6 separate regions of the Homo sapiens genome follow, and all the other regions are reported to be linked to region 5. Evidence: microRNA targets listed by miRTarBase, many of them from high-throughput screens and not tested one by one. Region 5 holds a microRNA gene; each other region holds the end of a gene's coding sequence.

Evidence for each region. Region 5 holds the annotated microRNA hsa-miR-3668 (AAUGUAGAGAUUGAUCAAAAU, at 3,315-3,335, opposite strand). A microRNA usually pairs through its seed, bases 2 to 8, with sites in the 3' UTR of a target mRNA and lowers its output. Matches are read on the target gene's strand: a 7mer-m8 pairs with bases 2 to 8, a 7mer-A1 pairs with bases 2 to 7 and ends in A, and an 8mer does both.
Region 1: miRTarBase lists ZNF529 as a target of hsa-miR-3668. Seed matches in the 3' UTR shown: 7mer-A1 at 4,054-4,060.
Region 2: miRTarBase lists PLEKHA8 as a target of hsa-miR-3668. The part of its 3' UTR that is shown has no 7-base or 8-base seed match.
Region 3: the mRNA of RTN4RL1 is a reported target of hsa-miR-3668. Seed matches in the 3' UTR shown: 8mer at 3,442-3,449.
Region 4: the mRNA of CHD9 is a reported target of hsa-miR-3668. Seed matches in the 3' UTR shown: 7mer-m8 at 802-808.
Region 6: miRTarBase lists PRIMA1 as a target of hsa-miR-3668. Seed matches in the 3' UTR shown: 7mer-A1 at 1,732-1,738 and 8mer at 3,216-3,223.

The regions. Positions count from the first base shown.
Region 1 is chr19:36,542,035-36,547,125 of GRCh38, forward strand. ZNF529 (zinc finger protein 529) reads right to left here. Exons shown (of 5, transcript NM_020951.5): 5 at 1,579-5,091. The coding sequence ends at 4,832. Among named protein-coding and RNA genes, the nearest start is that of ZNF260, 16 kb to the left of the region's middle.
Region 2 is chr7:30,078,444-30,083,534 of GRCh38, reverse strand. It overlaps PLEKHA8 (pleckstrin homology domain containing A8), which reads right to left. Exons shown (of 14, transcript NM_001197026.2): 14 at 1-4,945. The coding sequence ends at 4,748. Among named protein-coding and RNA genes, the nearest start is that of PLEKHA8, 53 kb to the right of the region's middle. RefSeq lists an enhancer at 2,189-2,715.
Region 3 is chr17:1,932,311-1,937,392 of GRCh38, forward strand. RTN4RL1 (reticulon 4 receptor like 1) reads right to left here. Exons shown (of 2, transcript NM_178568.4): 2 at 2,367-5,082. The coding sequence ends at 4,186. Among named protein-coding and RNA genes, the nearest start is that of RTN4RL1-AS1, 83 kb to the right of the region's middle. RefSeq lists an enhancer at 1-472.
Region 4 is chr16:53,324,539-53,329,629 of GRCh38, forward strand. CHD9 (chromodomain helicase DNA binding protein 9) reads left to right here. Exons shown (of 39, transcript NM_001308319.2): 39 at 1-2,959. The coding sequence ends at 357. Among named protein-coding and RNA genes, the nearest start is that of RBL2, 110 kb to the right of the region's middle.
Region 5 is chr6:140,203,504-140,208,594 of GRCh38, reverse strand. MIR3668 (microRNA 3668) reads right to left here and starts at 3,343; the gene lies at 3,269-3,343.
Region 6 is chr14:93,716,871-93,721,870 of GRCh38, reverse strand. PRIMA1 (proline rich membrane anchor 1) reads left to right here. Exons shown (of 5, transcript NM_178013.4): 5 at 325-3,573. The coding sequence ends at 427. Among named protein-coding and RNA genes, the nearest start is that of PRIMA1, 69 kb to the left of the region's middle.

The DNA.
Region 1 (5,091 bases), not on the chromosome of region 5:
TACAGAAAATAAAATAAAGGAACCAAAATGATACAGTAAAATAAATTCGGGCCAGGCATGGTGGCTTCCGCCTGTAAGCCCCTTGGGAGGCTGAGGCGGGCGGATCACTTGAGGTCAGGAGTTTGAGACCAGCCTGACCAACACAGAAAAACCCTGTCTCTACTAAAAATACAACATTAGCCGGCCGTGGTGGCACATGCCTGTAATCCCAGCTACTCAGGAGGCTGAGGCAGGAGAATTGCTTGAACCTGGGAGGTGGAGGTTGCTGCGAGCTGAGGTTGTGCCATTGCACTCCAGCCTGGGCAACAAGAGCGAACACCATCTCAAAAAAAAAAAAGAAAAAAGAAAAAATTCCATTAAACACAAAAGGTGGCAATATTGGGAGAATTAAGAAACAAAAAGAGACATACACAAAACAAATTAAAATATGGCAGAAGTCAGTCCTTTACAAGCAATTAATTTAAATGTATATTGATTAAACTCTCCAATTAAAAGGCAGAGATTGCCAGATGGATTAAAAAAAATGATCCAACTATATGCTGTCCATAAGAGACTCAGTATAAATCCCAAACTGTAAATAGTTTGAAAGTGAGAGGAGTGGACAAAGATTCCATGCAAATAGTTAAGCAAAAGAGAGGTAGGGTGGCTATGCTAGTATCAAACAAAATAGACTTTAAGTCAAAAATTTTTACAAGGGACAAAAAAGACACATTATATATTGATAAAACGGTCAATGCATCAAAAGATATAATAGTTATAAACACAAACACACCAAACAGCCCCAAAAGAAGTGAAGCAAACACTACAAAAAGTTGCAGGCAAAAAAAAAAAGTTCTACAACAGTTGGAGTCTTCAAAACTTCACATTCAATAATGGATGGAACATCTACACAGAAGATCAAGAAGGAAATAGAAAACTGGAAGATTATCAACTAACAACACCTAACATGTACACAACACTCTACCCCAAAACAGCAAAATACACATTTCCTCATTTTTCTCAGTATGGTTAAGAATTTCCCAAATCTTCACATTTTAGTTTCTTATTGCTTAAGAATTCCTCCTTCAATTCATCTCTCTCCTTTCCTGTTTTATATGCGCAATAAAGGGAACCCAAGCCACAAGTTCAATAATTAGAAATCTCCGCTACTATTCAGTTTTCATTGGTTGGAAGCGCTACCTTCCACAAAACACTAGAACATGATTCAGCCAAGTTCCTTGCTACAATAACCTGTTTCTCATTTCTGAGACTAAAACATTATGGCCTTAAATGTCCATATTTCTACCAACATTTTGTTCATGATTGTTTCTTTAACATGAATACCGTTCATGACAGGATTCTTTAAAATGGAAGCTTTCTCTCCAGTGGTTCTATTTTTTTTTTTTGTCCTCCCCAGAATCATTTTTACATCCATATTTCTAGCATCTACCCTCAGCATTCTTCTAGCCTATTTGCCCACCACCCAGTTCCAAAGCTTGGACTTGCACATTTTTAGTTTTTTGTTATAGCAGCACCCCACTTCTCAGTACCAACAACTGTCTTAGTTTGCTTAGGGTGTTGTAAGAAAATGCCATAGACTGTGAGGCTTAAATACAGATATTTATTTTCTCACTGTTCTAATTAAAATAGGGATTAGCAGGTTTAATTCCTGGTAAGGGCTCTCTTGGCTTCTCCTTGTGTCCTCATGTGGACTTTCCTTTGTGTGTGAGCATAGGAAGAGACGTCTCTCCTTCCTCTTCTCATAAGATCACCATTTGTATCAAATTAGAATCACATTCTTATGTCCTCATTGCCCTATGTCCAAATACAATCACATTGCAGGTTAAGGGGTGAATTCTGGCAAGTTGGAGTTGGGGTGGGGGGTGGCGCAGGGGTTATATAACTCCAGAAATCTCAGTCACAGACTCTTTACCTGTCCCTAACATACATATATTAGTTGCCATTAAATTGAATTCCTTCAAGGACATATAAAATTTAATGGTGCAGGACAGCAGAAAACAGGATGAGACTGCAATATCCTATCCTATTGAATATGAGAATAAAGCTCCTATGCAGGCTTAGAGAAAAGTCAGAAAGAATAAAGGGGCAAATGAAAATGGAAAGAATGGTGAAGTTTTATGTTTTTGAGTAAAAATAGTAAAAACCAAACAGTAATACCACCAATAATAATTATATTATGGTTTCGAGTAAGTGTGAAATGCCATAAGTTCATTACGAAGTTAAGTGAAAAATGTTAATATGATAAAAATATAGCTGTAACTACAAACAAGGAAAACATAATAAGGACACATTTTATTCATTAATTTATTATTTGTTAATGACTTCAAAAAGTAAAAGCCAAGACACAAGGATATTTTGTTTCTCTCACTAATTTTAATGTCTGTATACAAGGTTTAGATATTTAGTTTTAATTTGTTTAAGCTGGAAGGAAAAAAACACACACAAAGAAATATAGGACAAGTTCTCCTGGAGAACTATACCCAAAAGAGGAACATTAGCACTGATGGTAACTCAGGATAAAAAGGGAGAATGAGATCCAAGAGTAAATTAGCTGTGTTGTTACATAAATAGAATTTAGTTAGAAATAGAGCTACTACTCTATTTCAAAGATATGAAATAGCAAATATCCTGACAAAAAGGTTAACATACTCTTGTTCTTACTGTGTAGGACATGAAACAACAACCAATTACATATCTTTTAAAACTACTTGAATAAGCAATACTTACATAAAACATAGCTCAATATATCAGATGAGAAAATGGCTTAATACTGGTAATCATTCACACCGTTATAGAGTACATAAATTCTGGGAAAGACATCAGTTTCAAAAATTAAAATGTAATGAATGACAGTGACATAAATTTATCTGAAAATAATAGTAAAATTTTCTTATAAAAATCAAATAACCGGACAGGCGTGGTGGCTCATGCCTGTAATCCCAGCACTTTGGGAGGCCGAGGCAGGGGGATCACAAGGTCAGGAAATCGAGACTGTCTTGGCCAACGTGGTGAAACTCCATATCTACTAAAATACAATTAGCTGGGCATGGTGGCGCATGCCTGTAATCCCAGCTACTTGGCAGGCTGAGGCAGGGGAATCGCTTGAACCTGGGAGGTGGAGGTTGCAGTGATCTGAGATGACACCACTGCACTCCGGCCTGGTGACAGAGCAAGGCTCTATCTCAAAATAAATAAATAAATCCAATAACCAGGCTGGGTGCGGTGGCTCATGCCTGTAATCCCAGCACTTTGGGAGGCTGAGGCGGGTGGATCACCTGAGGTCGGGAGTTTGAGACCAGACTGACCAACACGGAGATATCCCGTCTCTACTAAAAATATAAAATTAGCCGGTCATGGTGGCGCATGCCTGTAATCCCAGCTAATCAGGAGGCTGAGCAGGAGAATAGCCTGAACCTGGGAGGCAGAGGTTGAGGTGAGCCAAGACTGCGCCACTGCACTCCAGCCTAGGCAACAAGAGCAAAACTCTGTCTAAAAAAAAAGAAAAAAAATCCAATAACCAGTGGCTCGTGATCTCATTGACTGCATAACCAAGTCAGCAGTCCTAAGAGAGAGATGATTTTGGAGTTAAATGAGATTAGTTAAACCAAAGAAGGTCTGCTGATTGTTGAAATGCCCAAACCTAGTAAGTCAACTCTGAGAGGGAATAAAAAGAAAAATAATGATAATAGATTAAAAAAACAATTGAAGCCATGTTAATATATAGTTGTAAATTCTCTTAATGTAAGTTCAGTGGTCATTTTTTCTCCCCTTTTAAAGGTGTTTGACAAATTTTAGAGTGATACTTTAAGAGAATGATAAATTTTAAGAGACTTACTGGGTGAGTAGTTTTATCAAATATTTAAAAGAGTTCTCTTCATTTGGATCCTGGTTGGTATAGCCTGCAGGTAAAAAGACTGCTTAAAGGAACTGGTTATATTCCAATATAACACACATACACACTATATATATATAGTGCCCAGTATATAGTGTATATACTATATATACATATATTGTGTGTGTGTGTGTGTATATATATATATATATATAGTGTGTTATGTAGTGCATGTGTGGGCATATATAGTATACATCACACACATATACATCACACACTATATACACACATATAGTATATGTGATATGTATAGTATACATCACACATACACTATATACACTATATGTGTATATACACTATATGTATATAGTGTGTGTGTGTGTGTGTGTGTGTTATGGTGGAATATAACCAGTTCCTATGTATGTGTTTTTTTGGGGGGAATATGTTGTATCAAAATAAAGTAGAAATTTAAAGAGAAGTCAACAATTGGATGAAAATGGAAAGGAGATCACACTTCTATCATTTAAAACAAAACAAAACAACATTACACAAAATGATGAGCTGTAAGACTGTAAAAATACATTGTATCTGACTAGGAGTGCTAACTCTGTGGAGGAAAATAAGTAAGTATAGATATCACAAGCAAAGAATTACAATGCAGAAAAGATATTGAAGTAATATTACAATTAAAAAACTGAATAGTCAAAAGAGCAATAATACAAACATCAAAAGCTATTGTAAACAAAACATGCCAGGATGAGAAACTCATGAAAAAAACTTTTTAACATAAAAAGGAGAAATATTTGGCAACATCTAACAAAGCTATAAGTATATATCAGCTATGACTAAGCAATTCTACGTCTACATACAGAATGACCATGAAGTCTAAAAACAGACTTTAAGAGAGGGAGATACTGAATTGCCTTGATTACCTATTAAATCCATCCACAGTATTTTCCTGTGAAAATCAGAAATAAAAAACCACTTTATACATTTATTTCAGTCAAATGATTTCTCACCAGTGTAAATTTTCGGTTGGCAAGTAAGATGCCCAACAACACTAAAGGAATTCCCACACTCCTTACATTCATAGGGTTTATCATCAGTATGAATGCGCTGATGTTTGGTAAAGGATGAACTATGTCTAAAGGCCTTCCCACATGCCTTGCATTCATAGGGTTTTTCTCCAGTATGAATTCTCTGATGTTCTGTAAGGGCTGAACTATGTCTAAAGGCCTTCCCACATACCTTACATTCAT
Region 2 (5,091 bases), not on the chromosome of region 5:
CTGAATGCAGCAGTGCAATGAGAAATCATGCAAATAGTCACTGTACACAGGACTATTGACTGTCTGAGACAGGATGGGAATTGGGAACATTTACAGGGAAGGTCTAGTAAACAGTATATTTATGGAATTGTTGAAAGAACTCCTAATGACGTTGTGATACAGATAAACAGTCTTAAAATACCATTAGACAGCTAGTGAATTATTTTTTATGAAATGACTATGAAACCCCTGAGTAAGCAACTGCGGATTACAAAGGGACATACAGAAGTAGAATGTACTTCTAACGAAAGCATTCTATATACAATCCATAAGAATACAAATTTACCATACATAATGAAGTTTGTGTAGAGCCCTTACAAGATCACAAAGAGTATCTGAAGTCAGGCCCTCTAAGACCAAACACATCAGCTCAGCTAACAGAACAATGGCTAAAAATATATTTTACTTATAAACTCTACATCTAAAAATTTTAAAATTTAAAAAAGGTTGATAGATTATCTTAAAAAAAGAAATGAAACATGAGGGAGAGCTGAATACTTGTAAAACCTGTGACTAAAATCAGAAGCAACTGGTTTTAATCAGTGATTCAGAGACGCACCATTATATAACCAAGTTCTTGTAGGACATGGTAGTTTGCTAGGAAAAAAACTTAATTTTCCTCCAGGAAGCTCCCCAAATGCCTCGCATCATCGTCTATTGCTCATGACCCTCTGACTCTATTGCCTGATCTGATGTTTCTCCATATGTATGATTTTCACAATCAGATTAAGTTTCCTTAAAAAAAAATCTCTTACTTTGGCTCCTCTTTCCCTCACTTCAAATTTAGTGGAGAAAAATGTACTTTACTTATTTGGTCCCTATCACATATTTTTAATTAAAAACACTTTTCTGAAAATATAAAGTTAAAAGCATCAACTTTTTGTTAATATATTTGGAAAGTAATAACCAAAAGGAGAAGAGTGCAAATTTTTTTCCGCTGCACTCCTCTAATAATCATCTTTCCTAGGTGCCCCATGTCATGTCATTCACCCGCTTTCCAGCTACAAATGGGAATATGGGCTCCTTCTTAAGAAGCTCTTGCAGTCTGGGGGGTGGGGGAACAGAATCCCCACTGATCAGGCACGCAGCCCTGGGCTAAGGTGGTGCCAGATACTCTACATATGTGCTAGAAGCTGCTCCTGGGAAATGGGGCAGAACAAACATAAGTGGGGGTAGATTTGGTGTGCTGATGGCGGTACTGCTGGCAATTTTCAGTAGCAAAGAAGAGAGAAAAGCAACAACGCTGGACTATGGAGTTCAGAAATCCCTCATCATGGAATATGACATTGGGGGAAGTTTAATAATCAGAATAACATGCAAAAAATGATAAGAAGGTGCCTCAAGCCACTACTTATACATCCTAATGAGAACTACCCTTCGAAGTCAATGTCTTGGGCCCACAGGCTCAACATTCTGTGAGAGCTCCTCTTCTGGAACTCCCTTCAGAGCTACATCAAGAGCCAATGAGAAGACCATCTTCTCCTCATAGTTACAATTTGGTTTCACTCCCAAAAGGGATCTCTCCAATTTAACATTTTTCACCAGCATTAGCTATAAGGAATCTGACTTGCTTTCAAAAGTCAAGAGACTTGCCATCATTGAAAATATTTTGTTTAATTCAACAAATACACCCTGATCCCTACAAAGTGTAAACACTGGCTTTTACCATAGAGAAAAGTACAGGCACGATGAAATTGTGTGGAAATGTCTCATAAGGGGTTAGCCTAATGTTACTTATTTGTGTCTACAATACCTAGTAGACCAATTTCCTTTTTCTTCCAGTTCTCTCTAAAGGTTACGCTAGAAAAATAATCCTAAAAATGCTTTGAGCGATGAGAACAAAGTGATTACTCTGCCAACAAAATACTAGAGTTTTCTCACCTCCTCTCACAGTAATGGTGAAAGTAAATTTAGTTGTCCCAGAAGTCTTGGAGGGCTATGGAGAGAAAGCTTTAAATATCTTTTCTCATTGCCCTCTTCTTGGAAAGTGATTACACATCAGCGCAAATTATGACTTTAACTAAAACAGAGAGCAAATACTTTAGATGTAGGAGGAAGCTCTGACTATGCCAAGGTTCAGGTTAAGCTGAATTTACTGTTTAGTATTAGGTTCAATTTCTAATTTCTAATATTTTTATTTAAGGATCCTCAGTTCCTTAAGCAAACTTTTACACATCTTAAACAAACTTTTATACATCTTAGGCAAACGTAATATGCTCCAGTGGGGAAAATACCTATTAAAAAATATTACCCTCTTTCTACAGATGTGGAAAAAGGGTAATTGGAAAATGTAACTTATTCAAGCTATTCTGTCTGATCTGGGTTCTCAATGATCTCAGATAATATTAAGCCCCTCATTCCCAGCAAATTAAGTTGTGTACATCTAGTCACTACCTATACAAATGCAAAATGGCCATGCTGAGCAGCTTTCCTTTTGTGTGTATTCAGAGTTGCGGTGGCAAACCTGAGGTATTTTCAGAGTGCTACCTCTCCAAGAGACCACAGAGTTCACCTGAGGTGACAGGGAGCACCAGCAGCTGTTTAGAATGATCACACTGCACAATTCTAACAACCACCTGGTATCATCCCCGCTAAATGGTACAATGCCTAAAACATCTTCATTCAAAGTACAAGCAAAAACTGGCTTTTTCTTTTTCCGTTTTAGGGGGCTATGTCAAGGGCAGGGACTATCCCCGAGTCCTGCCATCATATTCATACTAATCAGAGAAGGAGATCTATACTCACTGCTCATGAGAGTGGGAGGGAAATAACACACACACACCTTGGCAAAATACAAAATAATCAACATCATTTTAATACCCCCCTTCTTTCTCCCTAGCTTTAAAACATGTGATGTTGATTTTTCAAGTTTAAGTATTTTCCAGAAGTCTTTATGTGGGCAAAATACCTAATTAATCTGAGCTAAATAAATGTTCATTTGTTTAAAGACACACAAAGGCAAAACCAATACCCCTCCCTACATAAACTTCTCTGACTAAAGAGAGAATTCTCTCCATCCTAGAGATCTGCAGCAGGAACAGCATCATCTAGAGATGATGCTCTCAATTCAACCAAGCCCCTCAAAGGACCTTCTACCCTGGATAACTACCTCATGCTGGAACTTCCCTTCCTGTTACTAGAAGGAAGTAGCCTCTAATGGGGAAGGTACCCATGGCTTCTCTCCGATGCACACTCGAGGCAGCATGGTCTACTGAGACTAGGGCCAGGGTTGGAGCATCACACTGTGCAGAAGAATGCCCACTCAATATTGTTTTATGAAACAATGTTTCTTAAGTTTTAAGAAGTTTAAGAAACTGTTTTCTTAAGTCTCATCTTTCAACTATGACACTGTCCCAAAGCTTTTGAGATTGATAAACAGCTGCATTTTGCCTGCTCTGCACTTTTGGTGATTAAACCGAGATTGATTGGTAAGCAGATTCAGAGTCATGGTCCCCGAATGCAATGCAAAGGCCTGCTGGCTGGGTGTCAATGCTGGCTCAATTAAGAATGCTGCTGAATGAACCTGCTCCACTTCTCACTCTCCATTTAGCTATTTTATTTAAATAGCAGCCTTATCCTCTTTGAAAAAAAAAAAAAGGACATATCATTTAGTTCTTGAAGAAAACTGGTAATTTTGTAAACTAGAATTTAATCTAGTTGCTCTTCAATACTGTGTGCAGAAGAATCACGTGTAAAGTTTACTGAAATGCAGATTCCTATGTCCCACCACCTAGACTCTGGTTCTTTAGGCCAAAATAAGGCCTGGGAATCTGCTGTTTGAACAAGCACTCCATATGACTTTGATGCAGAGGCAGTCCAGGTCACACTTGGAAATTATCTGGCTCCTCTGCTTAAAAACTATGTGACTGTGAACAGATCCCTCAACTTCTAAACCTTGCTTTTGAAGTGGAGTAATAATCCCTCTGGGTATCATTACTTGTGATGTCCAATTGAGATAATGCATGGGGAACATGCTGGTAAATGGTAGGCAGTTGGGAGGTGTCATCTCAAATGACCTGTCCCACCTCTCTCATATTCTCCCCTCCAACTTGGGGCTAGGGCACACCATTAATCTTCTCAGAGCAACGGTTTCATGCCTGTCAGCAAGGATGGGACTCCTGTCCACGTCTTCTTCGCCTCCCACAATTGCATGGTCATGTGAATGCCCTGAACATCTTTACTACACAGGCCCTTATCACTGACAGAGTTGCAGTGAAGAGGGTCCACTGAAGAACATCTAGGAACAGCAAACTCTACACAGCTTCAACAAAGCAGCTTATACTACCTCCAAATGTCTAGTCTAAGTTGGCTGAAACACTGGCTATGAATTATGGTACTTAATATGGAATTTGCTGATTTTCAGCTTGGGTTTGGGTGGCCCATTAGACTAAAATATAAAAACAATACAATACACAATAACAGCAAATTTGTTTGTTAAATCTGCTCTTATAACTTGCTGTTCAAGTCTACAGCAGCTTATCATTTGGTTTCCAGTAGGCCTGCTGAACTGAAATATATAGCACCTTGATCTTTAAACAAAACACATATGCATTTTAAAAATTATAAAAGCACTGGGTTTTGCCACCTCCTGTCCATCCCCCCAGGTGAAGGGGTTGGAGAGGGTTGAGGCTGTTGCTGGAAATTAAGTAGGGCAACAAAACACTTTAGCACTTATTCCCTGAAGTTAGGAGGTGCTGCCCAGCAGCCATCATACCACCTCATCAGATTCCAGCCCGTGGACCTCATATAAAGTGTCCAGTATGGCCAGCTGCTTCTCCATGGCAGGGAGGTAAAGGCTGAGGTCCCTCTGCATCCCAATACTGAAAGCTTCTTTCTGGTGGTCACCTTCCTTTACGGTTAACGCGGCCACAAAATCTTCATAGGATGGAGCTGCCCTTAAAGCTAACTGCAAAAGAATAACCCATGAGAATCTGCATCAAGTCTGTCTCTCACACTCTTATTTTTATGCATGTGCACATGCACACACACATACTTTCACACATACAAACAGCTGAGAAGAGCAAGAGTAAAGAAATATGACTACCCTTCTAA
Region 3 (5,082 bases), not on the chromosome of region 5:
AGCCCCGGCAGGAGAGGAGGGGTGCGGTTGGTGGGAGGGGCTCTGGGGCTGGCTGATGGTCACAGCCCGCACAGGCAGAAGCGCCGGGGTGATCTGAGCTGCTCCGAAGTCAGGAGGGGCTGAGGGCGGCCGCGGCTGGGAAGCAGGGAGCGCAGGCCGTGGAATGCTTCCCAAGCTTGGAAGCAGCAGGTGTCTGGGAATGGGCCTGTGGCCCAGGCAGACTTCCAGCGAGCGCTCCAGCTTGCTGGCACCAGGGGAGGATCTGGCTGAGCCCAGGAGGCAAGTTTCCACCATGAAACCCACTGTTGAAGAACCGCGGCAAGGTTGCCACGGTCAGAAACCACGTGCCTATGGACAGGCTGGGGGGGGTGGGCGGGAGGACGACCAGGTCGGGGGGACCGCACAGCCCCTCCACTTCCACGGCAGAGTGGAGTCCCTGAGCAGAGTCCCCTGGGCCGCTCCCATACAGGGCGCGTCTCCCATGCCCTCAGCTGGGAGTGGTTTGTGGATACCCCAGACACAGTGCTGTTACCACCTCTAGCCCTACTCCCCACACTCTTCTCTGGGTGGCTCCTCATCCTCCAAGACTCATTGGAGTGTCACCTCTGCCTGGAAGCCCTCTCTGACTGCCCCCACCCAGCTGAGCTCCTCATTTTGGGGGCCGAGGGGTGCTACCACAAGCGCCAACTCCATACCAGTTGCGAATACTTGTTTCTACATCTAGGCTCTGAGCTCCTTTTGCCCCGAGCCACGTCTTCTCACGTTTATGTCCCCAGAGCCTGGCCAGTGGCTGGACACGGAGGTCCCTGATCAGCCCTTGTTGAATGAACTATGCAGAGCCAGCCAAGCTCTGGGGTCAGGGGAGGAGCTTGTGTGAAAGGCCTTAGAGACCACCAGTGGCCATCCAGCCCCTCCGACAGGGGTGGCTCTGTCCCCATCAGTCCACAGTGGAGGCCTTCAGTGGCCACCCAGCCCCTCCAACAGGGGTGGCTCTGTCCCCGTCAGTCCACAGTGGAGACCACCAGTGGCCACCCAGCCCCTCCAACAGGGGTGGCTCTGTCCCCATCAGTCCACAGTGGAGGCCTGTGTGGCAGGAGGGCTGGGAGGGAGAAGAGATGACTCCCTCTGGGGGTCCAGGGAAAGTGGGAAGATGGCAGCGGAGGGGTGGCCCCCGCCTCTGGGAAGACCACAGGAATCTGCATCTCCATGCCCTGAACCAGACGCAAGGGGCTGGAGCTGGCGAATAGAGAAGCTTTTGCCTCGCCCCTGACGCGTCCAGTTGCTTTGATGTTTGGGGCGATGGTGTCATCATAACTGCGTAGCATGAGCTGCTGAGTGACAACTGATGTCGTCTGCAACAGAGCTGCCTTGATTCCCCCTACCTCTTAGAGGAGAAAGCTGCTAAAAATACCTGGCGTCCTGGGCCCCCACTGCCTTGCCTCTAATAACAGTCGGCAACCAGAGACTGTGCTGTGCTTGACAGAAGCGGATCATTTATAAAACATTAGCATTTCTCGTACTGACATTTCACTTCCATATTACAGGACTTCCTAAGTCTTTTTTTAAAAAAAAAATTAATAAAGTGCTTAGACTCTTGATTTTCCCACTGAGGGCCTTGCTGTCTGAAGCTGGAAATGAAATCAACAACACAACAACATCCTTGGGTTCTAAGGGACAGCCAGGCCCTAGCACCTCGGCCTGGGTCAGAGCCTGCAGGCCACAGGGGAGCAGGTGCAGGCTGAGGATTCTTTGGTCTGCAGTCACTGGGCTCCCTTTAGTGAATGCCCCAAGCCTCATACTGAGGAGGATTTGTCCAGCCAGGCCTGAAAACACAGCCTTCCTCCCTCTATCCGGGGAACCCTCTCCTTTCTCTGAAGCCAGAGAGACGTGTGCAGTCTCCAAGCCCACCCACAGCTGTCCGGGTGGGTCCCTAGCCTCCTGGAAAACTCCTTGGGCCCCAGGTACTGACTGTTTCCTTGCAGCCGCCCGTCCCCACCAGCCGCCTGCCGGGCGCCCTGAGGATCAGTCACTTAGCCATTGCTCCGGAGACTCCCGGGAATAGGCCAGGAAGGACCCAGGACCAGCCTCCTCCGGGGAGAGCCACGGAGATGGTGCCGACCCGGGGCAGTCAGAATGTGGAAAGTGAATCATGATCTGTGCGGGCAAGGGAAGTGCCACGAAACGGAGCACCAGGGTGTGCGTGCTCTCATGTGTCCCGTGAATCAGTGCGCCCCTGCCCCCTGCGGCTCCTCCCGCCAACAAATGTGCTGTGTTCCCAGAGCTGTGCCCGGCCAGGCTCGCCCACCCACAGAAGCCCAGGATCTGCCACCTGTCGGGAATGCGGGGTTAGGAAATGAAAAACAGGGTTCTTGTCCAAGATCATTTATTGTTATTATTATTTTTCTCTCTTAATTGGATTCAGCGTTTCTGGCTCCTCACACACATCCTCTCTGGTGGGGGATTCAGGTTTGTGCAAAGCACAAAGGAGCTTGTACCCACCTGGGCCCCCGGCCAGCAGCACGGCCGGCTTTGATCGGAGCCCCTCTTCCCTGTCCGGGCTCGCCTGCCCCAGTCCCTGCTTCTGACCCCTGAGTCCGGCCTCCCGAGCCTCTGCCTGCACCCTGAGCATCCCCAGGACGGCTGGGAGGGCCAGGTCTTCCGTGATGCAGAAGTGCCTGAGATGGTTCATGAAATGCCCTCATTGTTCCCCTTCTGCTAAGGCCCCCGACGCCTCCCTCCTGCTGTCCCACACAGGGCCCTTGCTGGGTCACACACCAAACAGCCTCAAGGAAAAATTCAGCAGCTGAGCCGTGCGGGAGGCCTGGGCTCAAGCCCGGAGTCTCCTTGGCCCGTCCAGGCCGTCACTGACCAAACGCTAGGCTGACGACACGGTCCGACCCTTTGGACTAACACTGTGGATGCTGCCTGGCCTGCTGGTTTCCAGATCCCAAAGCCCCTTCCTTCCCCTTCTCCATCTCGCTCACCCTCGGGGCCTGGCTCCCTCATATACAATAAGCTGCTTCTCACTTCTCACCCTGAAGCCAACAGCTACGACAGCAGGGGTGACAGGGCGCTCCAGGGTGGCAGACAGGCTTGTGTTGCATATAAAAACAAGGTGATGCTCTAAATATCTAAGAATATTGGTCCCCCAAAGTGACTCTTGCTGCCTCCCCCTTCCTCACCGTCCCGCCGACACCTTGCCCCAGGCCCTTGGCAAGGCCAGGTCCCTTGGAGACTATCGTTGCCAGTTTGGGATTCTAGACAAAAATTCTATCACTTTGTTTTTGCTAGAAATCACCAATACAATCCTTAGTTCAGCAAATACAGTTTTCTGTATAGTTTATAAACATGAAAAGACGTACAGTTAGGTAACGGAGTGGGAGGGGGACTGTGCATTTGTGTATATATATATATATATATATATATATATATATATATATATATGTAGAGTGTGAATATATATAAGTGGACGTAGTTAGTTATAAAACTGCACCTTCTGTGAGAACCTCATTGCCCGGGATGAAGTTCTAGATTTCAGCCTCTGATGATCTTTCCTTTGGTAATTGGTTCTTGGACCCCAGCAGTTGGACCTGGGTCTGCCAGGGTTGCCTGAGACATCAGGAATGAGAGGCGCTACCCCCGAGGGAGGGGCTGAAGGTGGAGTAGGATAGAATTCAGGGCAGGGTGACTGGCCTCAGGCAAGAGCCAAGATGCCACCTGCTCGTGTGTGCCCAGACTGCTGGCCACCCAGCCTCGTGGGTGAGCCTCATTTGTTCTTCTCTGCGTCCTGCTTTCTCCAGGAACCACGGGGCCCTCCAGACCTCTCGGAACGATCGGGATTCCACAGAGCCCCGGTGCCGCCGTCGGGGGCAATTGTCCCACTGTTGCCAGTGGAGGATGCACTTGGAGTGCCTTTTCCCACCTTGCCAGAGTGGACACTGTCCGTGGGCGCTCTGCGGGGCTGGCTGGGACAGCCGGCTGAGAAGCGCCACCCCCTCCCGCCTAGGGCTGTACACTTTGGGTTTATAATCCACATGGCAGGGTCCAGACGTCCAGACAGCAGCCGAAGGCTCTACCAGCCTTTTCCTGAAACCCAGCAGATCTTCCACTTGTTAAAAAAAGAAGAAAATAAATTCTGTTCCTTGGTGGACATGTGGCAGTGCTGGGTGCTGACGCCCTGGGTCCTCAGCGGAGAGTGACCGCCAGCCCCAGTGTCCAGGCCAGGAGGGAGGCCCCCAGGGAACTGGCCGAGGAGGCCTGCTGCACCCCGCTGGGGGCACGGATGGGGGTCCTGCGGGCACACTTGCCCTTCCTCTTGGGCCGGGCCGTAGGCATGATGTCAAAACTGAACTTGTGCTGGTAGTCTGGGGCATAGTCTGGCAGCTCGGGGGCCTGTTTCCCGGCGCCCGCCTTAGAGATCTGATTGCGGTTCCTGGGGTTGGTGCAGTTCTTCCCCGGCTTCCTGTGGCCGGGCCGGGGGCCGTGCGGGTGGCCCTTGCTCCTGGTGGGGCCGTGGGGTGAGTGGTGTTCCTTGCGGGCGGCCCTGTCGGTGGTGGTGAGCGTGTGTGACTTGATCTGGTGCGGGGACGCTGGTCCCGTGCAGTTCCGGAAGTCCTCGGCCCTCAGCAGCTTCAGGTCCTGGCCGTGCCGCAGCCCAGGGGACACACAGGGGACAGCGGAGCTGGAGCCCCGGAACCTCTGCAGCCATTCCCACAGGGAGCGCGCGCGACAACCACAGTCCCAGGGGTTGCCGTTGAGGCGGAGGAACTCCAGGGCCCCCAGCGGGGCCAGGCACTCACCCTGCAGCTCCGAGAGGCTGTTGTTGAAGAGGAAGAGGGTGGTCAGCCTGCGGAGGTCGTGGAACGCCTTGTGGTGGACCCACTGCAGCTGGTTCTCGTGCAGCAAAAGACGGTCCAGGTTCACCAGGCCCCGGAAGGTGCCCGGGCCCAGACTCCACAGCTTGTTGCCGTGGAGAAACAGGTGGCTGAGGTTGACCAGGTCCACGAAGATGTCGTCCTGGAGGTACTCGATGTGGTTGTCCTGCAGGTAGAGGTACTGCAGGCTGTGCAGGCCGCCAAAGAC
Region 4 (5,091 bases), not on the chromosome of region 5:
GCTGCATTAAATACAGCTGCAGCTGCCAACCCATTAGCTCTTAACCCACTATTACTATCTAATATACTTTATCCAGGGATGCTTCTCACTCCAGGCCTTAATCTTCATATTCCAACTTTGTCCCAGTCCAATACTTTTGATGTACAAAACAAAAACAGTGACTTAGGCTCGTCTAAGTCTGTAGAAGTAAAAGAAGAAGATTCCAGAATTAAAGATCAGGAAGACAAAGGAGGAACTGAACCAAGTCCTCTCAATGAAAACAGCACAGATGAGGGTTCAGAGAAAGCTGATGCTTCATCTGGATCTGATAGTACATCGTCGTCATCTGAGGATTCAGATTCTAGTAATGAAGACTGATTCCCAGACTCTGCACTTAAAATATGAACTGATTTTGGATTTTTTCTTTAATAATTAATTGTAAATACCCCAGTGTTGAGTGCATCAATAACTTACTGACCGAACATTTCAGTTATTTGTTTAGAAGTGCAAACTGCTTTCAGAGACTTTTTGCATGTAATATTTCTTAAGATTCATAAGTTTCTGAACTCGTATGTACTATCAAATACATAAAGGTGTAAAATTACAACAAAAGGCATTATAATTTTGTTGGGGGTTAATTTTATGAAAATTATGCTCAATAAGAGTTGTATATTTAATATATTTGCAGTGAACACAGAATACTTTATGCATATTACTGATTTAATTTGAATATAGTTTTACAGCCTCCTTGACACCTATAATTTACAGATCAAAACTCAGCAATAATTTGGGCAGCTAATGAATGTCATGAAAGCTGTAGAATCTACATCACCATCCATTGCTTTAATTACATGAAAATGCTCTAGTGTTGTGATGCACTGCTGATGTTTCCAATTCAGGTACAAGTATGTTTTAAAGAAGAAATAAGTTTCCCAATCAGCCAATTTAACTGGCTACCTGTTACCTCAGCTGAGTTAGTTTAGGAAGTTTACATTCGTTTCTAATTCTATACTTGTTTTCAGGGGTTTTTTAAACACATCCTATATATCATGTCAATCTGGCAAGAAATATGACTTGCTTTTTGCTGAGCTTAATTCAGATATCAGTAAAATTAAGTCATAAAATAATCATGTGTCATGTGACTTTGGCACCCTATAGACATACTTAGTTTTAACTTTTCAAAGTTTGGCCTCCTATTAGAAATAATCATGTCTCAGATGAGTAATGTCTGTTTCCAGGGTTCAGAAAAGGCAAACTCATGAAATGCCACTGAAAAGAACTTTCAACACAGCATACTTCATGTAAAAGAAATTGTTTGTTTGCTTTCTTTGTGTAGATTTCTATTTGTGTTTTATGTCATGGAAATATTCCAGAATTAACAGATAATAGTGGTAAAGTAATATGCAGATAGTCTAAATTCATTTTGAGTTTCTAGGTGTAAGCAGACTAAATGTTGCCCAGAATCAGTGTTGGGTTATCAGTTTATATTAAATATACTGAGTTGCCCGTTTTGAAAATGCACTTTGAATAATCTCAAAAAGATGTACAAGTTATACCTGTAAACCACAAAAGTGAAGCCTGAGGCTTCTGTTCAATTTCATAGACTCCTTTACCATGTAAAATTTGTCTGATATTTGATTTGTGATACAATTTCTCCTGCTAAAGCTGCTATTATTCTGACAAGGTAGAGGTCCAGGTTCACCTTTATATATATTTAAAACAATTAGTACTGAATTGGACATAAAAATATTGACATTCTAAGGAGAGATATATGTTAGCATTTTTCTGGTACTCAAATAAGTTAGTAGTAAAGTCTGCAAGGGCATAAATTTAGGGGGAAAAAGTGTCCCAGTTCTCTCCTACAGAAAAAATACTTTCAGTATGTTTTGATAAAACTGTTGCTTTGTCATGAGTTAGTCAATTGTATCAGGTTTTCCAAGACCTTTACCAGTAAATTATGTTTCTGTATGTAAAATAACCCCTTATTAGAGAGACAGTGTTATATGTATTTACAAAATTATATAAGTTCCATTGGGATTGTATTGATTTTGTATTTTCCCAAAATAGTACTTTGAATTGATAGTCCTTTATGCAATGTCTTAGCAATAGTCTCTATAATGCCCATCCAGGAGAAGTGGGTAGTAATTCTTCATCATGAAAATGATATATTACATATTTAGTATCTTCCCTTTGCAGTATTGCACTTTTGTTTAACTAGAATACACCTATGAGATAGCCAAAGTTTCAAACACAGTTATCTTAGTTTACCGGTGGAGTATTTCAACACCAACCACATTTCCCTTCCTCCCTCTAATTCTACCCACATGATCTTTATTCCTTCCTTTCGCCAATTAAAAAAAAAAAAAAGGAAAAAAAATCTGTAGATCTTGTCACTAAAATCTAATTTATATCAAATTTATGAGAGAAAGTATTTTCCTAATTATGGTCAAATAAATTTGGTTAACATCCTAGTGATTCTCTTTCTATATAATAAGGCAATTACAGTTTTCAAAGCATTAAGTCTAACATAACTTTAAACATTCTCTTAGGTTTCAAGACACTTCTATTTAATATTCATTGGGGAAAAGTTGTCCAGCTATCAGCTAAGAAAACACATGCAAATATGGTTGTGTAAAGTTAAGGGTTATAAGGAAAAAAAAATCAGTAGAATTACATAATACTAAAGTTGCAGTTGAAAGAATATCCAAGTATGTGTTGGTAGTTACTAAAAGAATTATAGCTGTTATTGCCTTGTATTTATAGCCCTTGTTTCAGGTTTTATGATTCAAGTCTTAGTCCAATCTTTCTTTTGGACATTTGCAATATTTACCAGTTGTGTTTTGTGTAGTCTGAATTTGCTTTCTGTAGTTGAGCAAACGTCTTAAAAAGTCATTTGTAATTTATTAAATTACTTTCTATGATGTTCTATAGAGCAAATGGAAGTTTAATTATTTTTTATTAAACATATTCTTTGACTACCCATGATGTCAGCCTCTGTACATGAGAATACTTTTTAAAATTGAATTTTATATAGAATTTATCTTATTCCAGTTATGAGAGACACCATAGTTGTAAATCTTTAAAAGGAAAATATACCGTGGAAGAATTTTTAAAACAAAAATTGGCTATAATTTTATCCACAGTATCTTAAATGCTGTCAATTTTTCATTTTGATTTAATTTTATTAATATTGTTCATTGTGGATATTGGTGACTGCAAAAAAAGCAAAAGCTGCTTCTTGGGCATTCAAATTGTTAAACCCCAATTTTGCAGCCCAATCTCAACTTCATGCTGAACATTAAGTATTATTTTCTTAAGTTTTTGGACTTTTAAAAAACTCAGAAATACTCAGAGATATTCCTCACCTCTTTAAGAAGTCCATTTTGGAAATCAATAATTATTTTTTTCCCTTAGTCTTAAGAGTGTTTCCTAACTCATTGCCATGGGTAGTGTTCTTCGTAAACATTGAAGAAAATAGTTTTTCCTCTAATTACACAACTAAAACAGTGGAGTCTCATACTCATTTAACTTGAACACATTCAACTACACTTTCATGTTTAGAAAACCTTTTTTTCATTTTTGTACAACATAACATATAAACACAAACCAACTGCTTCATCTAGTACTCACCCAGAGGAACAGTAGTCTGTTCCAGTGTTGGAGGAAGAATTGCCTATGTTGGACATTTTTGAGAAGAGATATGAGGTATAAAATGATGTATTCTGTAATTTGTGAGCTCTGTGAGAGAAAAGAGTGATTTTTTTTTTTTTTATAAAGACAAGGTCTTGCTCTGCCTCCCCTAGGGTGGAGTGCAGTGGTGCGATCACAGCCCACTGCATCCTTGACCTGTTGGGCTCAAGCAATCCTCCCTCCTCAGCCTCCTGAGTAGCTGAGACTACAGCATGCATCACCACAACGAGCTAATTTTTGTATTTTTTGTAGAGATGGGGTTTTGCCGTGTTGCCCAGGCTGATCTCAAACTCCTGGGCTCAAGCAGTCTACCCATCTCGGCCTCCCAAAGTGCTGGGATTACAGGTGTGAGCCACCACACCCAGCCAGAAATGATTTTTGACTACACCTAATATTCACTTTATACAATAAACTTAGAACTTAATCTCTATATAAGCTATTTATTTTAAAATTCAGAAAAGCAAAAAAATATTTAAATCATTCATAAACTAAAACTACCCAGAGATAAACACTGTCAGTAATATATTCAATCTTTTGTATATCTATGTTATTTACATGTAGTGGGTTGAGTAGTGTCATTCAGAAACTGATGTCAACCTAAAACCTCAGAATGTGGCCTTATTTTGGAAATCGGGTCTTGGCAAATGTAATTAGTTGTAGTCATGCCGGATTAGGGTGGGCCCTAAATCCAATGACTAGTGTCCTTAGAAGAAGAGCAGAAGATACTCAGAAACACTGGGAAGGCTGTTTTGTGATAAAGGAGACCGGAGGGATGTTCCTACAACTAGGGAACACCAAGGATTGCCAGCAACCACCAGAAGCTAGGAGAGAAGTAACAAGCATTCTCCTTCATAGCTTCCGGAAAGAACCAACCTTGCCAACACCTTGATTTGGGGTTTCTAACCTGAACTGTAAGAGAATAAATTTCCATTGTTTTAAGTCACCTAGTTTGTGGTAATTTGTCATGGCAGCCCTAGGAAACTGATAGCTTTTCATATTAACTCAGTGTTTTATGGTACATAATTTCTACCTGCTGTAGGCTTTGAAAAAGAAGAAAAAAAACTTGGTGCACTGCCCTTAATATACTGACCTATGTCAAATAAGAATCCTGCAATGTAATTTTTAATACATAGTATTGATTCATACAGATGTAATTTATTTAATCATTAATTTAAAATGGATATTTGGGTTTATGTAGACATTTTTGCATCCATCCCTAAATAATTTGCTTAATTCCTAGAACTGAAAATACTTCCTCTGTTTTTAAGGACTTCAGTTTATGTTTCCACGTTTATAACGAAGCTCCTAGTAGCTATTTATACTAACATTAGCAGCATACGTTTTGCGCATGCCCATTTATTCCCAAATCTTTGCCAATGCTGTGTATTGTCTTTTTAAATAATCTTTGCCAAATTAATAGGC
Region 5 (5,091 bases):
GATGCAGGAAATGTATGTGTGATAAAAGCCATGCGATACGTTCATATAGCTCCCAAAGTACCTTGCAATTCATCTACATGACAGCTGTTATTGAAGCTTAAGATCATTAGCACAGGAAACTTGGCAAGGACACAGGACTGGGTTATAAATATTGGCTTCAGATGTCATTTCAGGACAGAGTTAAATTCTCTTAGGATGTAGTAGCATGGATTATATGAGAAACTCCAGTGGGATCCAAAGTTACTTGCGAGATTAATGAATCAAACGAAAGTAAAAGTAGAAAACATAATTTTAATTCACGTTTTTAATTTTAAAAAATTGTAGTAGAGTTAAAAAGGTTTCATTTTTGTTACTTACACATTGTCTAACATCAGGCAAGTTACTTAACTCCTAGGATTCATTTTCCTCCTGAGTGAAATTGAGTTAGATGTTTTCTTGTTGTTTGTTGTTTGCACAGTGCCTAGCACACACTAAGTTCTTCTCCTTCCTTCCTTTTTCATTCCTTTAACTTCCTTAATATTTCTCTTCTTTTAGTTTAATACTATTAGTGTCATTGTCATTTTCACACATTCAGGGACACATTCCCTTACCTATGTTTTCTAAAGATTTTTCAGTTGTCCTTTAAAGAAGCTGCATTTTAGCTACTAGGTAGCTGTATGTAAAGCAAAAAATTGTATATCAAATCACTTCTCCAGTGACGGTCATTTTGAATAACAAATACTATTTATTCAAACATCTACTCTCAGAATGATTTAAGGCTCTTTATACAATTGCATGCATTCTGATAGGCTAAAAAGTGATAAAAATAGAGAGAGAATGAATGACATAAAGTCAGAGGAAAGTTAATACATCAATGAATGCCATAAAATAATACCTAAGTGGGCTGAAAATATGCCTTTGCATTTCCTATGAACCAACGTATATAATAATTATAAACATTAAAAATAAAAACAATAAATAAAGAATAAGGGAAACATAAGTTATTGTTTCATGAGTTATAGGAAAAAAAATTGTAGCTTTACTTTAACACAAGAAAATGGCCTGTGACAATTTCCAGTGTAACACTTAGTTTTGGTATAGCTTAAAGCACATACTTAACAACTGATTCCAACTTGTGTAACATTAATAATTAAATATTCATCTGAAGAAATTAATATCCTAATGTGTGTGTACAATTAATAAAATCTTTGCAAAATGCATCTGGCAATTCTCATGGTCTAGACATATCTGTTAAAATATACCAGTGTTCCTGGTCCCAACACAATTACCCTTTTATTAAGAAAGGTGGCATGCTATTGAGGAAAATGCTGAGAACTGAAAATGAGGAGATCTGTGTTTTAGCCCCAGACATAACATTAACTTTCTGTGTAACCACTGCCATCTTAGGTTAAGTTTTTTGCCTTTGGTACTGTAAAATGTGAGATTGGTAACAAACAAATTCAGCATCCTCTTCCATCTATAAATTTCAGGGAGTTCTCATTGACTTTAATATTTAAGCAGCAGTACTTCATGCATTTTTAAATATTATTCAATTGCTGTCTTAAACTATTCAGGCTGCTGTAACAAAATACCATAAACTGGATGGCTTATAAACAACAAACATTTATTTCTCACAGTTCTGGAGGCTGAGAAGTCCAAGATCAAGACACCAGCACATTTTGTATCTGGTGAGGGGCTGCTTCCTGATTCAAACATGGCCATCTTTTCATGTATCCTCATATGGGGTAAGGGGTCGGGGATCTCTCTGTGGTCTCTTTTATAAGGGCACTAATCTCATTTATGAGGGCTCCCAAAGACTCTCCATCCTAATATCATTATCACCTTGGGGATTCGAATTTCAACATATAAATTTTGGAGAAAAACATTCAGTCCATTGCAGTTTCTAAAACTGAAGATGAAGATGCCTTTTCAGTTTTCATCAAATACAAATGGGATTTTTTTTTAGAAACAGGAATAATCAATCAACAAATCACTAAATGACTAACAGATATATCTGGATCATGTGACTAAGCAAAATGAGACTGGTTAAAATCACTCATTTCACCTGTGGGTATTCATTATAGTTCCCATTTTAAAATGTGAACATGTAAGTAAATTTCAAAGGTCATACATCTAGTAACGAAACAGGAAAAGTTCCCTTGTCCCCTCGCCAGGCATGCGATGCGGGTGTGGCTTGCTACTTCAGTGCCCCGCTCCTCAAACCTCTAGGGGAGCATACAGATGGGCAGGCTGTGGGGCTCCGCCCCCAGGGCTGAGTCTAGGGGTGAAAGTTTACAGCTCCTGAAGCCCCAGTGGGGTGTGTTACAGAGTGCTCTTTTAGTTTGTGGTCTATAGGCGACTTATGTCAGCTCAATTAGACCCTCTACCTTGTCACAAGGACAGAGGGCTTTCTGTATCCCAGGGTTTCTTGCCTTGGTGTACTGGAAGAATTGGTTCACATGTGGGCTTGAAGAATGAGTGCAAGGTTTTACTGAGTGGAAGTAGCTCTCTGCACATGGGGGAGCCAGAAAGGAGATGGTTTTCCCCTGGAGTTGTGCCACTCAGAGGCGCGGGCTCTCCCGGGCTCTCCTCCAACCACCCCAGCCAAACTCCACGTTGTTCTGCTGGTCAGTAGCCTGCCAGCATGCGGGTGCTGGTGCATCCCTCTGAACATCCTGTGCCTGTGTGTTCCTCTGCTGATGTGCTCCTCTCAATGTCCAGCTGCTTCTTCTCTGCCTTGCTAGGGTCTTGGTTTTTATACACACAGGATGAGGGCATGGTGGGCCAGGGTGGTCTTTGGAAATACAACATTTGGGCATGAAGGCAGGAGTGCCTGTCCTTACCTAGGTCCGTGGGGGTGGAGCCCCAGCCAGGGACCACGCCCTTCCTCTACCTAGCACTTTCCTTCACCCCTTCCATATCATTTAAAGGAGCCACGCTCCTCCCTTCCCAGCACTTCCATATCAGTAAGATGGAGTTTGAGTTTAACTTTTTGACTCCAAAAATGTTCATTTGTTTTCTGAACAAGCGATGCTATTGATGACATTGACAAAGGTTAGGGTTACAGTGAAACAAAACTGATTGATTGATTAGATAGAATAGAAAAAAACATATATATTATTCTAAGCTTTTCCTGCCATCATCTTTTCTGGGGAAAAAAAAGAAATAATATAGTTAGTTATAAAAAAGATCCATGGTTCAGCAGATGCTGGTCATATGTCTTAATTTTGTCACTGCCTTTCAAAATAGAGACACAAAGGGCATAATACTTTCAGACTTCAGTTTCCTCATATATAAAATTGCAGAGATTGATCAAAACTATTTTGATAGAAACTATTTTGATCAATCTCTACATTTCATATATTTTAGGCCAGTTAAACTCTAAGACATTTTTAAATAGTTGTAAAATAGTTATAAATAGAAGAGATACAGAAAGGAAAGGAGAAAGGACTAGTGTAATATTTTTCCAAAATACAGCCAGGCAAGAAATTTTAGACTACCAATGACTCTCTTCCAATATCTTTTTCTTTGTACAAAATATACTTCAAAAAAGCAGATGATGACCCCAGTGTGAGGGAAAGAGATTTAACACCTGTTTCACTCATTTTTGTGTCTTATTATATCACCTTGTGTAGAAATGAGCATAACTGATCATTTTCATTAGGTATTGTAAAATAATAAGGGCTTGCAATTAAAGATATGTACTATAAGTTTTGTAACACATTTTAAAATTAGAGCCAATATAATCATAGAATTTTAAATACAGGATGTAAAATAAATGAACTGCTATATATTTCAACAGATACCTTTACTATCAAAACATGAATCTAAATCATCCGTAATGCTAATCTCTTTTCCAAAGTGTTAGAACAAAAATGCCTGTATTATAGTATCATAGTTAGTTGCTGTACTTTCAAAATATTACATGATTAACAGGTAAATTACATGGTATTGATAGTAACATTTCTTTTTTAAAAAAAATCTTTATTCAGTAATATTCAAGGTAACCAGTACCTGGGAGAATCTCTACTCAAAGAAGTTGTAGAAAGAAACCTGAAAATATTTCATGTCTGTTAGGTTATGAACATTTGCATTTGAAAATGAATATCCTAAAGATTTAAGACCAAAAACAAAACTAAATCAAACAAGTTTCCTTAAGCATCCCCATCAATGATTTTTCAAATGGTAATTAATAGCACCAACCAACATAATTCAGGATTGGAGAATCTATGACTCACAATAAAAGCCTCTTTGGGGTGCCTAGGTTAAGAGAACATACAATTATGTGCAACATGAACTTAAAAGGAGCAATTAGAATGAGTTGCTTTTGACACAGACAATCATTTCTGACATTGAAATCTCAAAACATTTCAGAATCACATATTAAGGGAATGTTCATTTAATTAAAGAAGAATCAGAAGATTCAGATATTTATATTGTGTCAGTTTCATTCACTTTGTAACTAGGGTTGGGAATAAAGCACAAAACTTTAAACTGGACATTCAGATGTCACTGCTAACCACAGACTTACATTCTTTTGCTATTTATACCATTTGTTTACTTTTTGCATTTCCTTAGCTTGGACAGGGACTTTCTGCTTCTAGTCAATTTCACTCTTATTTTTGGCTCATAAATAAATTTTCCAGTACTTCTGGAAAATGTTACATCTAACAATTTTTTTGCAAAGAGATGATGGAAACATTCCTATTGGGATTTAATAAACTGGATGGTGAGAGTTGTCACTACTATCCCAAGAGATACCCACAGTAACCAAAAACATGTTTCCCAATTGTCTCTACGAGGTTGACAGCAGTAATAAAGAATATCTCCTCTCCTTTACCTTATCAGCACTACCATGTGATACGACTATTCTATTCTTTACAACAAAGGGTCTCCAAGGTTAGCCTGGCAACAGCTCAAACATACTCCAGCCCCACTTGAGTTTTTTTAATGATTCATTGAGAATTTCTGTCAATATTGTAGCCTGGAGAACTAAACTCTGCTCTCTGCTAAGTTCAATTAACTCTGGTCTCCTGTCAGTAATCAAATTTTTTTACATTTAATCACATCCATTTTATTTAAAACTAAACTATAGAGTACCATAAGCCTACT
Region 6 (5,000 bases), not on the chromosome of region 5:
GACTGAACATACTTTCTTGTTTGTCCAAAACAGCCTGGACTCATACCTGTTGTCCCTGCTTCATCATTAATAGCTCCCCTCTTTCCCTCTCAACTGTGCCCCGGTTTTCATGACACCCGAGTTAAGACCACGTCCAGCTTCTGATTAACCCCACAAGGACTAGCAGCCCAAGGATGCTAACCGAGGACAGAGCCATTGGCTTCCTTCTGACACTCTCACGGAGCAGGGATGCTAGCTGGAGGTTACACCCCACCATCAGTGATAACTAATGGTGTCCCTGCCTCCCCCTCCTTTGCCTTTCCTGTCCCCTCCCCCCACTTCCAGGAAACCACTGAGAAAAGACGAAAATGGCACCAGCGTTGCTGAGTATCCCATGAGTGCTTCGCAGAGCAACAAAGGAGTAGACGTGAACAACGCAGTGGTGTGAGTCTGCAGGCCCTGGACCCGCTGGCCAGAGGGACACCTTGGTGGCACTGGTGGACATGGGAAAGCAGGTGGACATGAGCTAACCCTGAGCTTGTCCAGGACTTCATTGCCTCACAGGCCCTGAGCCTCCCGAAGGAGAAACCATTGTCTTCCCAGGCTTGCCCCTGGTCAGCCTGCGGGCCCAGGCAGCTCGGACACCAGGCTGAGCCCGGCGCAGCACCTGGGCAGTGTCCCCACCCCAGGCCCTCCACATCCTCCTCCCTGTCTGGTGTCTGGTCTGTCGACTGCCCCCAGCTGCTGTCTAAAGCATGCGCACTGGCGAAGCCAGAGGGATCTGTCTTTCTACTGTGGCAGGGAGGCTTCCCCCTTTAGCCAAAAGAAAGATGGTCCGGAGCCCACTCCCTGCCGGAAAACCTCTCCTCCTCCCAGGAAGCCTGCCTGCTCCACTGTTCACATTCTCAACAGAAGCCATCGGCACAGCCAGCAGACAGACGTCCCCTTTCAAAGGTGCTTCCCACACATCTGTTCATCGCCCCATCTGCAGTTGTTGTCAATCTTCAGGGCCTGCCTTCTCCCTCCTATCCCCACTGACACCCTACACCCTAGGCTCCTGACTGCCTGCCATGGAGGGCTGTGAGTCCAGCCTGCAGAATCCCCTCCTGAGCAGACACAGGAGTGCGTTTACACTCGGGGGCAGTGTCTGGCCTTCCGGGGGCAAAACGACTCACTGAACCCGCAGCCCAGGGCCACTGGGCAAGGGCAGAGGCCACTGCACCTGTCCTCAGACTCATCCCCACACTTGACCCCATAGGAACTGATGCATCTGTGTGAGCCAGGCCCTGCCTTAGTCAGCAGAGGCCACTACTTGTGCCAAATCCACTGTGGGCCTGCTGTACCAGGCTGATGCTGGCCAGGCGCTGGATGTCCCCCACAGTCCCCTGAGGCCTGACTGTTGTACTCAGGCCCTCTCCCAGAGTCCTCCATCATCTCCCCATTTTACCCTACCCCGAGCCCCAGTCGCCAAGAAGGAGGTGTTGTTCTTCCAGGGTCTTCCTTTCAATGTCTGTTTCCACAGTCTCATGCTATAGAAGCGCTGAGCCCTCCAGCGTGGTTGGAGGATCAAGGGATGAAATGGGACAGGAGGAGAGGGGTCCTCCAGGCTGGTGACCCCTGCCCTGTTGGCCTGTCTCCCAAGTGGCAGCCTTCCCTGTGGGCCACATCAGGAAACCCACGGAGACAGGGTGATTTTGCATCTCCTGGAAAATGAGTGGGACACTCCTGGCCCCCTGGCTCTCCCCACCACCCCTACATATGTGCTCAGAAGGAGCCCAATGCATTGAATGGTTCCACTGTCGAGCCCTCTAAGACCTGGTTTGCCTCCTAAACCTCCAGTGTGCTCCTCTGATAGGTGTTTAAGCTACAGGTGAGACTTTGAAGTCCAGAGAAGACAGACACACCTGAAAACCGGTCCCCATTTGGGCCGAACCTTAAAAAGCCCATTGTCCCAGAGTCCTAGTGCCCACGGAGCTGTCTGTGTGTCATTGTCCTGCCCAGGTCATCAGGTGTGGGCTGAGGACAGGCCCAGGGCATACCCTCCCATAAAGGGGTTTTCTTCTTTCCTCATTTCCTTCTATTTGAGGACTTGTTTGGGGTTTAGATTTGAATTTTGCTTCCCCTGGACACCTGGGCATCAGCATAGTGCCACCCCCTGCTCCTGACCTGGCCAGTACTTCACAGTGCTCTTGAGGTGCGGAGCCAGCTGACAAATAGGCCAGAGGGTGTGGGCCAGCAGCAGGTTAAAGGGGGAAACCCAGCAGACCCCACCCCAGGGCACTCTCCCCTACTGCCTTCAGCCTTCTGGTGCCTGTTGAACCCCCAAGCTGTGCCCTAAGCAGACCCCTGGGCAGGACCCTAGCCCTAAGCACACACCACCCTGTGCTGCAACCATGAGAAAGTGCCCATGCCTTGGGCTGTCCAGAAGCTCAGGAGTGATCAGAGGGCACCTTCTCTAAGAGGGGAGGTTCCTGGCTAAGGGACCATGGAGTGGTGGGCAGCCTGAAGGGGCTGGGCACAGCCCAGCTTTGCGCACACTCGCCTGGTCCCATCATTCCCTACCTTGGCTTAAACCTAGGAGGCCTGGATTTTGCAGTTAGCCTAATCTTCCAGCCCCAGGCGAGGCTCCCTGGTGAGGAATCAGCTGAGCCATCACCACGTTTTGGGGCCTGTATCCTCTTCCCTGAGCCGCTGACGCATCCAGGGCTCTAGTCTGCACATAAATTCCCTCTCAGCTGGGCTTGTAAAATCCCTTCTCACCCCAGTTAGCAAAAATCAAGGGAAGAGCCTAGTTTTTTTAAAAGATTCACTTAATATCCACCCCCCACCTCAAGCCCAAGACCGCCCATTCAAAAAACAAGTATACGGCACAGCAAGGGAGACCCACTAGATTTTGAGCTTACAGAGACATAAGGGTACTTAAAACCCTGCCGGCCTAGTATTTGAGCTTAGAACTTTTATTTAAAATGAGCCGGCAGTCTCTAGACACACACCGATCCTCAGGCTAGTCCGAGCCCTGAGGTCAAGAATGAAATGCACTTCCCTTCTCATTTTCTCAAATAGATCTTTTCCAGCCGTCTCACAGTTGACCCCAACTTTGGAACTCAGATCATAGGATCTCCCAGAGGTTTCAGGTGTTCCTAAGAAGCTTCTAAAGGAAGTTTTGGAAGAAAGACTAATAGGTGTAAACATATAAACATATATATTATATATAGCTATATATATTTAAAGAGATCTCTACATATATATATATATATAAATACAACTACTGTACTCTCTGCATCTGTACAAAGTATGAGTTAAACTGCCCAGGTAGTGTGAGATACGTAATGCATGAATGTGAATATCCTGAAATCTGCCTTCTTAGCAACGTGCCGCGTGTACTGGAGAGAGGACAGTTGCTCCTGGGAGTTCTCTCAATGGGCAAATGTACAAGTTGATGCCGTCTTATCCACCAACAAGCCATTAAGGTTGGTTTCCTGCTGAGACTTTTGTACCGGAAGCGAGACCGGCAGCACTGGGGGTGTCCATATGCCACTTATGAGGAAGAAAGCACCATGACTTTTTTATTTTCAATAAAAATATAGAGATGTCTGTCAGTTGTCATTTGTGGGGTGGGGGAAAGGAGAAGGCCGGCCTGAGGGATGGGGGGATCCTTCACTAGGGTCCTGCTATACCCCAGGGCTGGGCTGGGGACCTTCCATGGGATATCTCTGTATGTTTTATCCCAACGCCCCAGGGTCGGTATTTATGGGGCTTTCAAAGGCCAATTCTGTCCCTCAGCCTGCCACCCACCGCCTTGACCCTTGACTTAATTGAGAATAGGGCGACCAACCTTCCCAGTTTGCCTGGGACTGAGAGATTCTCCTGAACCTGGGACTTTCAGGGCTAAAACCGGGGATATCTGGGGAAAATGGGACAAGAAGGTCGCCCTAAGTTGACAAGTGCTCACAGGAATCACAGGGAGCAGGAATCAGCCGGCCACACCAACAGGGTGACGGTGGCCAGGGTCAGCCTCCTGGATGTCCACCCCATGTGTAGACCTCAGCACCCACAGGCTGCTCTGCAAAGCCTCCTTACCTGGCCAGTTGCATGGAGAATGGAGGCTTGCCCTGCACCCCCACGCAGAGGGGCCCAAAGGGCACAGGGCCCCCCAGGCTCAAGCTCCCGCCACCACCCCGCTGCTTTGTTTTCCCCGCTCCAGCCTCACCCTCAGGCAAGCCTCACAGGAAGCAGCCGTGGGGAAGAGCTTCCGGTGTGATGGGCCAGGAGGGATGTAGGAAGAGAGAAAAAGTTGCACCTGCAGCATCTTCATCCTCCTGTTTGGAGTGAGGAGACAGGTCAGAAATGGAGCACAATGGCCAAGGTCAAGCACATACCAGGAAACAGGGATGGGGCTGGGGGTTGAACCCAGCCTGGTGCCTTCAAGGCCCGGCCACTGGGCACAAGCGAGGGGCCACAACTCAGACTCTCTCCACCCCTGCCTGGCTTCCCTGGGGCTTCAGAGTTAGCTCAGTGAGGGCCAGCTAAGAGCCCTGTGTGCCCAGAGCCAGTGGGCAGGTATATCCCCCTAACTGGGCTCACAGCCCAGGGGACAGGAGCTCAGTGCAGGAACTCAGGGAAGGGCTTGTGTCCCAGGCATCAGGGACATGGAGGGAACATGGAAGTTATTAAAGGCACTCCTGTTACAAGCGCCCCTCGCACCTGGGATTCTGTGAGCTGCTGTTGGCCTGCATACGCAGTAGAAGACGCAGTAGACACGCAGTAGAAGATGGCCATTGTTACAATGACTGTCACTGTTGTCTTTAATGAAAGAGCCTGTGTGATAGTGAGGGCTCCTCTGTCCACTGGCCCCCTCCTGGGGCCTGCCTGAAAGCTGGTGAGGGTTCAGTGGGACATCTCAGGCCTCACACCCACTCCTGTGCACCCTCAGCCCAGGCGTCCTCAGCAGCAAGCTCGGAGGCCAGCAGGGAGTGGCAGGCCTATGTGCAGTGCTCTGCCTGCTTGTGCAGGGGCCTGGG